2 linked regions of the Homo sapiens genome follow. The protein of the gene in region 1 purifies or fractionates together with the protein of each later gene. This does not show direct contact. Each region holds a gene or a part of one and is shown on either strand. Other genes may lie near its edges. The genes, in order: DIAPH3 and LRRTM3.

Evidence for each region.
Region 2: the proteins of DIAPH3 (region 1) and LRRTM3 purify together in Homo sapiens (co-immunoprecipitation; one large-scale study listed by IntAct). This does not show direct contact.

Annotation. Positions count from the first base shown.
Region 1 is NC_000013.11:60,160,934-60,165,456, forward strand, and holds the start of DIAPH3 (protein diaphanous homolog 3), read right to left. Parts: upstream 2,996-4,523; 5' UTR 2,834-2,995; coding exon 2,654-2,833; intron 1-2,653. UniProt on the Homo sapiens protein: Actin nucleation and elongation factor required for the assembly of F-actin structures, such as actin cables and stress fibers. Required for cytokinesis, stress fiber formation and transcriptional activation of the serum response factor.
Region 2 is NC_000010.11:66,929,025-66,932,843, reverse strand, and holds part of LRRTM3 (leucine-rich repeat transmembrane neuronal protein 3 precursor), read right to left. Parts: intron 1-3,819. UniProt on the Homo sapiens protein: Exhibits a limited synaptogenic activity in vitro, restricted to excitatory presynaptic differentiation. May play a role in the development and maintenance of the vertebrate nervous system.

The sequences.
Region 1 (4,523 bases):
AAGCCCGCAACTATACATTTGGTAGAAAACAAGAATTTGCCAACTTTAACAGGACTCAAAGTAAAACAAGATTTCAGCGGGTACCAGAGCTCCTGCTTTCTTACACTAAGATAGGAGGGAGTGACCAGTCTACCACTCCATTCTACTACTCGCTTGCTGCTTTGCAGAAGTGTGCAAAACACTGGCCACCTAAATTACTCCTATCCATCACATCACCAACCTATATTACTTGTTCCCATCAAAAACAGCTGCCCCAGGCTCAGATAATGACTGGGTGACCTGAAAAGATTTAGGATAACGTCACTTCATCCAATCAAGAAAAAGCCAAGAACTAACTTGACATCTGCAAGAACAGTGACTGACTTGACACCTACAAGTACAATTACTTTCTGAGGCATTGCTGGGAACTTTGATGGTCTCAAAGATCCCTCTCCATCCAAAAAACAAGAGTTACTGGTGTGCAATCAAGAGCAGTGAAAGGTAGGCAAACTGGGAAGAGCTGCTCAGGAAGCAGTCTTGAGACTGGGATACTGAACTTTAGTACAGGAACAGAGTAGAGCTGTGCCTGGAACTTCTGCCCATGTTAAGATTTCCAGTTCAACAGGAAGGTGGTCCAAAATCAGTAGCATGCCCAGGCTCCTTGGCAGACAAACTCAAACTATCTCCAAAGAAAAGCATCTCTGGAATCCTACAGGTGAAGATAAAGCAATGAGCTTACAAAGATAAATACACACAAGAAAGAGAGCAAGCCATCATGAATCTGAGTCAATGTAGACAGCCCAGGTTGCAAACAGCAGAACTGTCAAATAAAGAATAAGAACAATCAAGTAGGAAATGTCTAAAGAAATAAATGAATAAGAAACAAAGGACTATCAAGAATGCCCAGACAGATTTGAAAAATAAGCAAATGGAACTTATTAAAATAAAAAATAATTGCTAAAATCAAATATTCAGAAAAGTAGCAGATTAGACATAGCTGATAACAAAATTAATGAACTGGAAGATATAACTAAAGAAATTACCATATAAGCAAGAACCTAAATTAGTTTCAAAGTACCAAGAGTCCAAATTACTTCTAAATTAACTGGAAGTCATGATTCATACCAGACTCCCACCCAAAAACACAGTGTTTTAGATGTGTTTTTTACCTTTACAGCTTAAGAGTGTTATCTTTTAGATGTCATTTCATCTTTATGAGAATCCATTTAACAAATGGCATGCTGAGATGGTCAATGTGACATACATAAGAATGAAAAACAGCACAGAGACTGGAAACCAAATGATGAAATCCTTCAATGAAACTTAACATAAATACTAATTTAGATCCTGTTTTCATGACCTCCTTGCTGGGAATGAGTCACAGAAAATAACACCTCCTGTATTCTGGACCACAGAAGTTAAAACAAAATAAAATAAGATTATTAACCCAGAGAGTAGACTATAAAAGGAAGAAAAGTCATTGCCTTAGTGGATTCTTCTCACATTAGGCAAAAATCTTTCATTGGGAAGTTAACTCTGTCCTATTCATTCTTCAGATTTGTCAAGATAATGATCAAGTCCATACTTGATCCTTCTGCAAAATGTCACTATTCCTATGACCATTTTGATACTTAATTTGGCATAATTAATCTATGCTGTTCCTCATTTTCAATTAATCTATGCTGTTTCTCATTTTCAGTATTCTGATATATCTCATGTATCAGAATATGGGCTCTCAGTCTTATTCAACTATTATTTTTAACTAAATGTTATAGTTAGCAACTGGTTCACAAACCATTATTCCCTTAATTTGTGAATCATGACTTAAATTTCTCACAATTTTTACTTGCCCACATAAGGCAAATGCTGTACTCTCTCTCTCTCTCTCTCTCTCTCTCACACACACACACACACACACACACACACACACACAGTTTTTCCATATTCCTAAGGAAAATGGTGGAGTGGTCAATGTGAAATTTCAATTCTGTTGGACTCATCCCAAATCTATCAACCCTCTATGTGATTTATTTACACACACAAACCCCAAAATAATCATCACTGCCTATACTTTCACTAGTTGACACCAACGAAAAGACAAGGTGTTAATCATGACACTTTCCTTAAGTGTTAAACACAAGCAAACCAGAATAGCAAGTTTCAAATATTTAGAATTCTTTCCAAGCTAAGCAAAACATTCTTTAGCAGTGACCACACCACCCGCCAAGTTCTAAAACTAGCTGTTTCAACTTGGAAAATTATATCTACCTTAAAAGTTCTTATATGTAATTAAAAGTTCTTATTAAAATAATAAGCAGAAAAAAAACCTGTCACCTAAAAGTTCATTTTGATATATCTTATACCCTCTTACACTAGGGAGGAAGGGAGAACTTCGACTTAAAAAATGCAATGTCCACCTAGATGACGTCAATACATATACACGTTTGAACTGCTTTTCACATCAGCGTTAAGAAATTTGGGGGCAACACAAAGATCTGGGCATTTGTCACAGGATCCAACTACAACTAGACCCGGTCGTTGTCAATCTATGATCTTTGGCACCTCTGGATCTCTAGAATAAAACTTGGTCCCCAAGTTCTTGTGGGCCCACCCTCGGCAGTCAGCCCTACGGCGGGGCGGGAGCGGCCCCACCCTAGCTCCAGGCGATACTCACAAACTTGGGGCGCTTCTCCCCAGGCTCCTCGGGGCCACTGGGCGGCGGAGGGTGTTGGGGGCCCTTCCTGCGCGGCATCTTGCTTTCCCGGCAGCCGCGGAGAGAGGCTGAGGAAGGGTAGGGAGTCCCAGCGGCTGAGCCTTGGGCCGGGTGGTGCAGCCGCGGCTGGTGCCGTTCCATCTTTCCCCGCAGCTCCGGGGACCGGAAAGAAGGTGGCCACTCAGCAAGCCGCAAGCTGGAAGCTGAGGGATCGACAACAGGTTTTACTCCCGGGGTCCGCCACCCAAACAGTCAGCACAGCCTAGCCCAACCGCTGAAGTCGGGGCCGCAGCCAACACATCTGAAAACTCCCGCCACCCGTGTTGGCCCGGGACTGGCCAATCCCGCGCCGCCGGATCAATGACACGCTGAGGCACCGCCCCTTCCGGGCACTGCGAAACATGATTGGCCTTGCGGCCTGTCTATGCAGCCGCTCAACCCTTCCGGCGGTCCAGGCCGCTCACCTTAAGGACGCAGAGTGGCGTCAGATTTGGAGAAGCGCCGGGGACCGTGGAGGAAGTCATCGGCCTGGATTTCTTTGGATTTGCAGATAGGGTTCCAGCAGAACTGGAAGGTGGGCGAGACAGGCCCTGCGCCACCATTTGAGCAGCGCTGGGATATAAAACCATCTGCTAGCCCTCTCCTTGCACGTCTGGGGCTGGAAAAAGTAGTTCTGGGACTGGGTACGGTGCTGGAAGGGGTACTAGGCAGGATGAAACGACGGGGCCCACGACGCTCCAAAAGGAAGCCTTCTGGACATATTTCCTGCCTAAGTGCTCGCTCTGGGGTGGCAGAGGGGTCCACCCAAAATCAGACAGAGCTAGGCTAGGCTGAGCCCTTCAGGAGCTCACAGTCTCCTGTAGTTTCCAAACCCTAACACAATTAACCAAGGAATGTAAATGTCTATAGCAGTTGTTTTAGAAGTTCCTTGAGAACAAAAAGGGAAGTTATTAAATCTGAAGGAGTGGATCTGGAAAGGTAAAAGGAAAGCTGCATAGGTTTTCACTAGGCAGGAAACAGTGGCAGGGCATTCATTTAAAAGGCATTCCATTCCAGGCAGGAGCAAGGCCAAGAAAGCATAGAGGTGAAGAAACTTTAAGGTCACATAACAAAGGGCCTTGAACTGAAACCATGCAAAAGAGTTTGTTGTGTAAACCCAAGGTCAAGCTACAAGGCAAACACCGTTTTCTCAACACATCAATATACCCTCTTTAAAAATGAGCTTTTCCTTGGAACTATTCCTTTAAGATATCTGTCTTCTGATTATATGGAGGTGGTGTAGGCCAAGACTCGGAAACATGCAGTATTGATTTTGGTACAAGAAACAACTCTAGGTACTCTGAGGAGTTTGGCACAGAGGTTCAAAAAATGAGCCTTAGTTCTCAGTAAGTCTTCACACTACAGCTTTTCTTTTTTAATATTTGTTTTACTGTGCCAGACTCTACAGCTCTGTCCTCAAAGAGCACATAATCTTTAGGGAAACTTACAGGAGAACAGCAAGGTCAGGAGAACTACAAGTAGTTCCTTATATCTTGATGACAGACCCAGATACAGATTTTATTCCTGCCATTTACTAGCTATTTGATACCGGAGATGACGTTTAACTTTCTTTGCTGCTTCATCTACAAAAGGGGGGTAATTATACTAATACCTATGAAAGAGGGGCATTTTCAGGCCTAAATAACATAGCATATGTAAAGCCCTTAGAGTTTTGTCAATGCTCCTACAGGAATACTGTAGTTGAAGAAGTTGGGATTATTACTCAGGGAGGGAGAACATGCACTATGGGGAGCCATGAAGTGTCTTAGGTAAATGGTATTAGAAAGCACTT
Region 2 (3,819 bases), on another chromosome or scaffold:
TATTGTTATTTAGATTTTATTGGTAGTATTAAGTATCCAAAATCATCACCAACTTTTGGAGGCTAAAAGAATTTGGGTCCAATTCTGTAGGCTATTATGATTAGGAAAGCAGTGACTTTCACCTATGTATTATTATTATTTCTTTAATTCATTTTTAATTAGAGCTATTTGATACAAACTATTTAACATCCATCCATTTTATTTCTCTTAAAACTTGTGTCATTCAAATTTACCTATATATTCTGTTGTGCTCATTGTTTCCCCCAACTGCCTCTGATTTTTAGTGTAGGTAGCTAGGAGAATACAACAATAGCAAAACTCCGTGGGTTAGCTACAGATCTGGATTCTAATGAGAATCCAGAGCAAAAAGGAATAGATGAAGCAACACAGATTCTGAATTTTTTATTTCTCATGGCTCGATTCTTACTTGCCATGTCTGGAACTCACTTTATCTCAGGCTTCATGACCTGATGCTTGTTTCTGATGCAGTCTAATCCACACTTTAAATAAACGATTTGAGTTCTCATTTTGGTAAATGTCAAGGGAAGAAGAGATATTTCATGCACCTACAGCATCCTAAAACCTCTTGCCAAATCCATGAATCTGACTCTGCATTATCCTTCCCCAGAAGGAGAGCATAATTTCATTATCCATGAATCATCACCTCTTAGACTGTAACATCATTGTCAGAGAGCCTAATAGAACCAGTGTTCAGCTGGCTGAAAAGGGGGAGGGAGGGAGAAAGCGCTGAGGCAAAGCACAGGTCACTGGCACAATCAGCAAACTGGAGAGTTCTAAAGCCGGAAGGGGAGGCCCCCCTCCTTTGACACCTTTGACATATCCCTGACCAGTAAATGACTGATGCTGACTCTTTTGATATAATATTAAAATTTGTTTTTCCTACCTAAATTACATGTATCTTGCTGATGAAAAATATTAACCCCTTTAATAAAAATATCAAAATGCTTAGCCAGCATCGATGAGTATAAGCACTCTAAAATATTTCTTATCTATTCTTATTGCGTTATTACTCGCTTTTCATCTTGGACACTTATTTCTAGCCTTCAGTACCAATTCTATGGCCTCTGTTCCAGCATTACTATAAAAGTCAAAATGAAAAGTATAACATTCAAAAATTACATTATAATTATATTTCCCAAGGAAATGAATTAAATAAAATTCAAATCTGATTTACTAGTCAAAAAACATGTTGTAAACCACGTTTACATAAGGATTCAGGATAAAAAGCTAAAATGTGTGAATAGCTGTGGTTAGTCTAACCAGACACTAGAGGTCACTGCTGCTCCATAGAAAGACAATTTACTGCCTGTCTACTTAGGTAGTTCACTCACCAAATCAAGTAAAAAATTGTTTAAATTCTTTGAAAAGATGTAATGTCAACGTCCTTGGAAAATACAAACTCATTTCAATGCAATATATCTTGCATAAGTATTGCTTACAAGACTGTGGCACTGGGACTATTTAACTACATGCTGTGGTAGCACTATGTGTACTGGGGTTAATAAAAATGGAAAAAAACTCACATGAAGTTTAGAGACTAAATCCCATTTCTTCTCTGTTTTGGTAAAGCAAAGTATTCTGTGTTCTGTTGTATAGTTCAACAGGTCAGGCTTTTTTTTTTTTTTTTTTTAACTGTTGTCACCTTTGAGGGAAGTCCAATATTTTATGTAAATACGTACTAGAAAAATAAATATCAATCACATTTCTCTAATCTGCATGAACTTGAAATACTTATACAAATAGATTTATGATATGTAGTCCAGAAAGTACCATGGGATGGAGGTGAGGCAACAACTTTTGAGCAGGAGACTGGCAGTTGGCGTTTTAAAATTTACAGTGGTAAACTAGTTATTAAATCTACAAGAATTATATATCTGTGCTCAGAAGATACTGAGAATTACAGAAGATTCATTCTCAAAGAGTGAGGAGAAAGAAAGAACTTTTTTCCCATAATTTCATGTCCCAAATCAAAATGAGTTTTACCACCTAAGGGATTTTATTTTCGTTCTTATCTATTATTATGTTTATTAGTAAAGTTAGGCATTAAAAAGTGACAGCTTTCAAAATATTGGTGATTCATTTAGTGTTATATCATATTTTATATTCCAAGTAGCTTTGAATTTTAGGAATGCTTTTCAATACAGCAAGCATATTTTATATATACTAGTAGCACCATGGCATTGAGAATTTGCAATAATTCAAAAATATAAGTATTCCTTGCCTAAATATATTTGGTATCCATCACAAGTAAGGCAGAAGGTTAAGTGAAAAAGAATAGAAATGGGGTTCTTCACTTTAAGACTGCATTTCATTAATACAAACATCTTTAGTACAGATAAAAATGAGGCTAGCCAAAGAAAATTTCTTTTTAAGATGGAATATGTATTTACTGATGCTTTATGAAAAATGTAAAGTTACAACTTCAGTAAAAAAATCACAATAAGCTCAGTCATCCAGTAAGCTGTGAGGAAGTATCTGCATTATTAATCCATTGGAAATATGTGACTTTTTGTCATGAATACATGTATATTCAACAATTATTCATGGGTAAACATTGTAACTAAGATGTTTTTCTGAAGTGGCATCTATTGTAAGATTTAATCAATATCAAAGTACCTTGAGAAATCCACTTTAACTATTTCTTTTTCTTTATTGCTTATAAAAGTATGATTTTAATGATCTGGCATCCTTAAAATTTTATTTTATGGTGACTTGCCTAGATTTTTCCTCTCAGCATATGAAAAACCCCCAAACAATAAAAAAAAATTAGTAAAAATAGCCATTCACTTTTTCTTTGTTGCTGCAGTGATTCTGTTTTCAGAGAAGAGGGACATGGTTAAAGATGTAGGGGTTGGCAAGCCAAATTAAATGAAACAGCCTCAATGTTGCAGTTCCTGATATTTGCTTCTATAATAGAACTGTTCATTTTGGAGGATGAAGGAGAATACAGACTAAATATATCTTTCTAAAAACCTTAATTGACTGTGGTTCAAGTTACTCAAATATGGAAGCTATGATATTCGTGCTGCAGTCAATAAACTTTCACCAATGACATAAAAACATGCATGCAGCTTGCAGATTGCCAACAGGGTCTGTACAGAACTGTACTGATGGATGAGTTCACAATACAGATGAACGCAGGGACATTGTAATGTCAGCAATAGAAAAGCAACAGAGAACTGTCATAGTGTTGGTCTTTTTTCCTCTAAGATTCGTTTTATACATTTATTAAGGTGTTATCAAAGTCGTCCTTTTCAATGAGGCTGTGGGTGGAAGGCACGTCTTGGAATGTGTTCTCTTTACACATCTGAATGAAGTGTCTGTCATTAGGGGACTGGTGTGTGCAGGACATGTAATGGAACACAACAGGGCAGCCTGACAAATTCTGAACAGAACAGGACAGAGCTAAGGATTCTACTAACTACATTAGGGTCTTCGAAAAAACTGGAAAGAGAAATTCTGGTAAGCTCTCAACCACATGCCTGTAGCAAGCTGCTTTCCCATTCGCGAACCTTATCTGAAAACTCCCTAACTAATGTGAGGTGTGGTGGAGAAATCTGGCTTCTCAATGCTGTTTCATTTATTTATTTATGAAACATACAGGCTAGAAGAAATTGGCAGTGAAACCTCTAGTCTGATTTTACAGAGATGGGTTTCAGAGACAAGGCTGAGTCGAAAACTTTACATTTTTGTCATCTCCTCACATTTTGCAGTTGTCTGCTTGCAGTATTTTAACCCTTCATCACTTTGTCCCTGTGCTTGCCTTACTGTAATTCAGACACCTCTGGAAACTGCTCA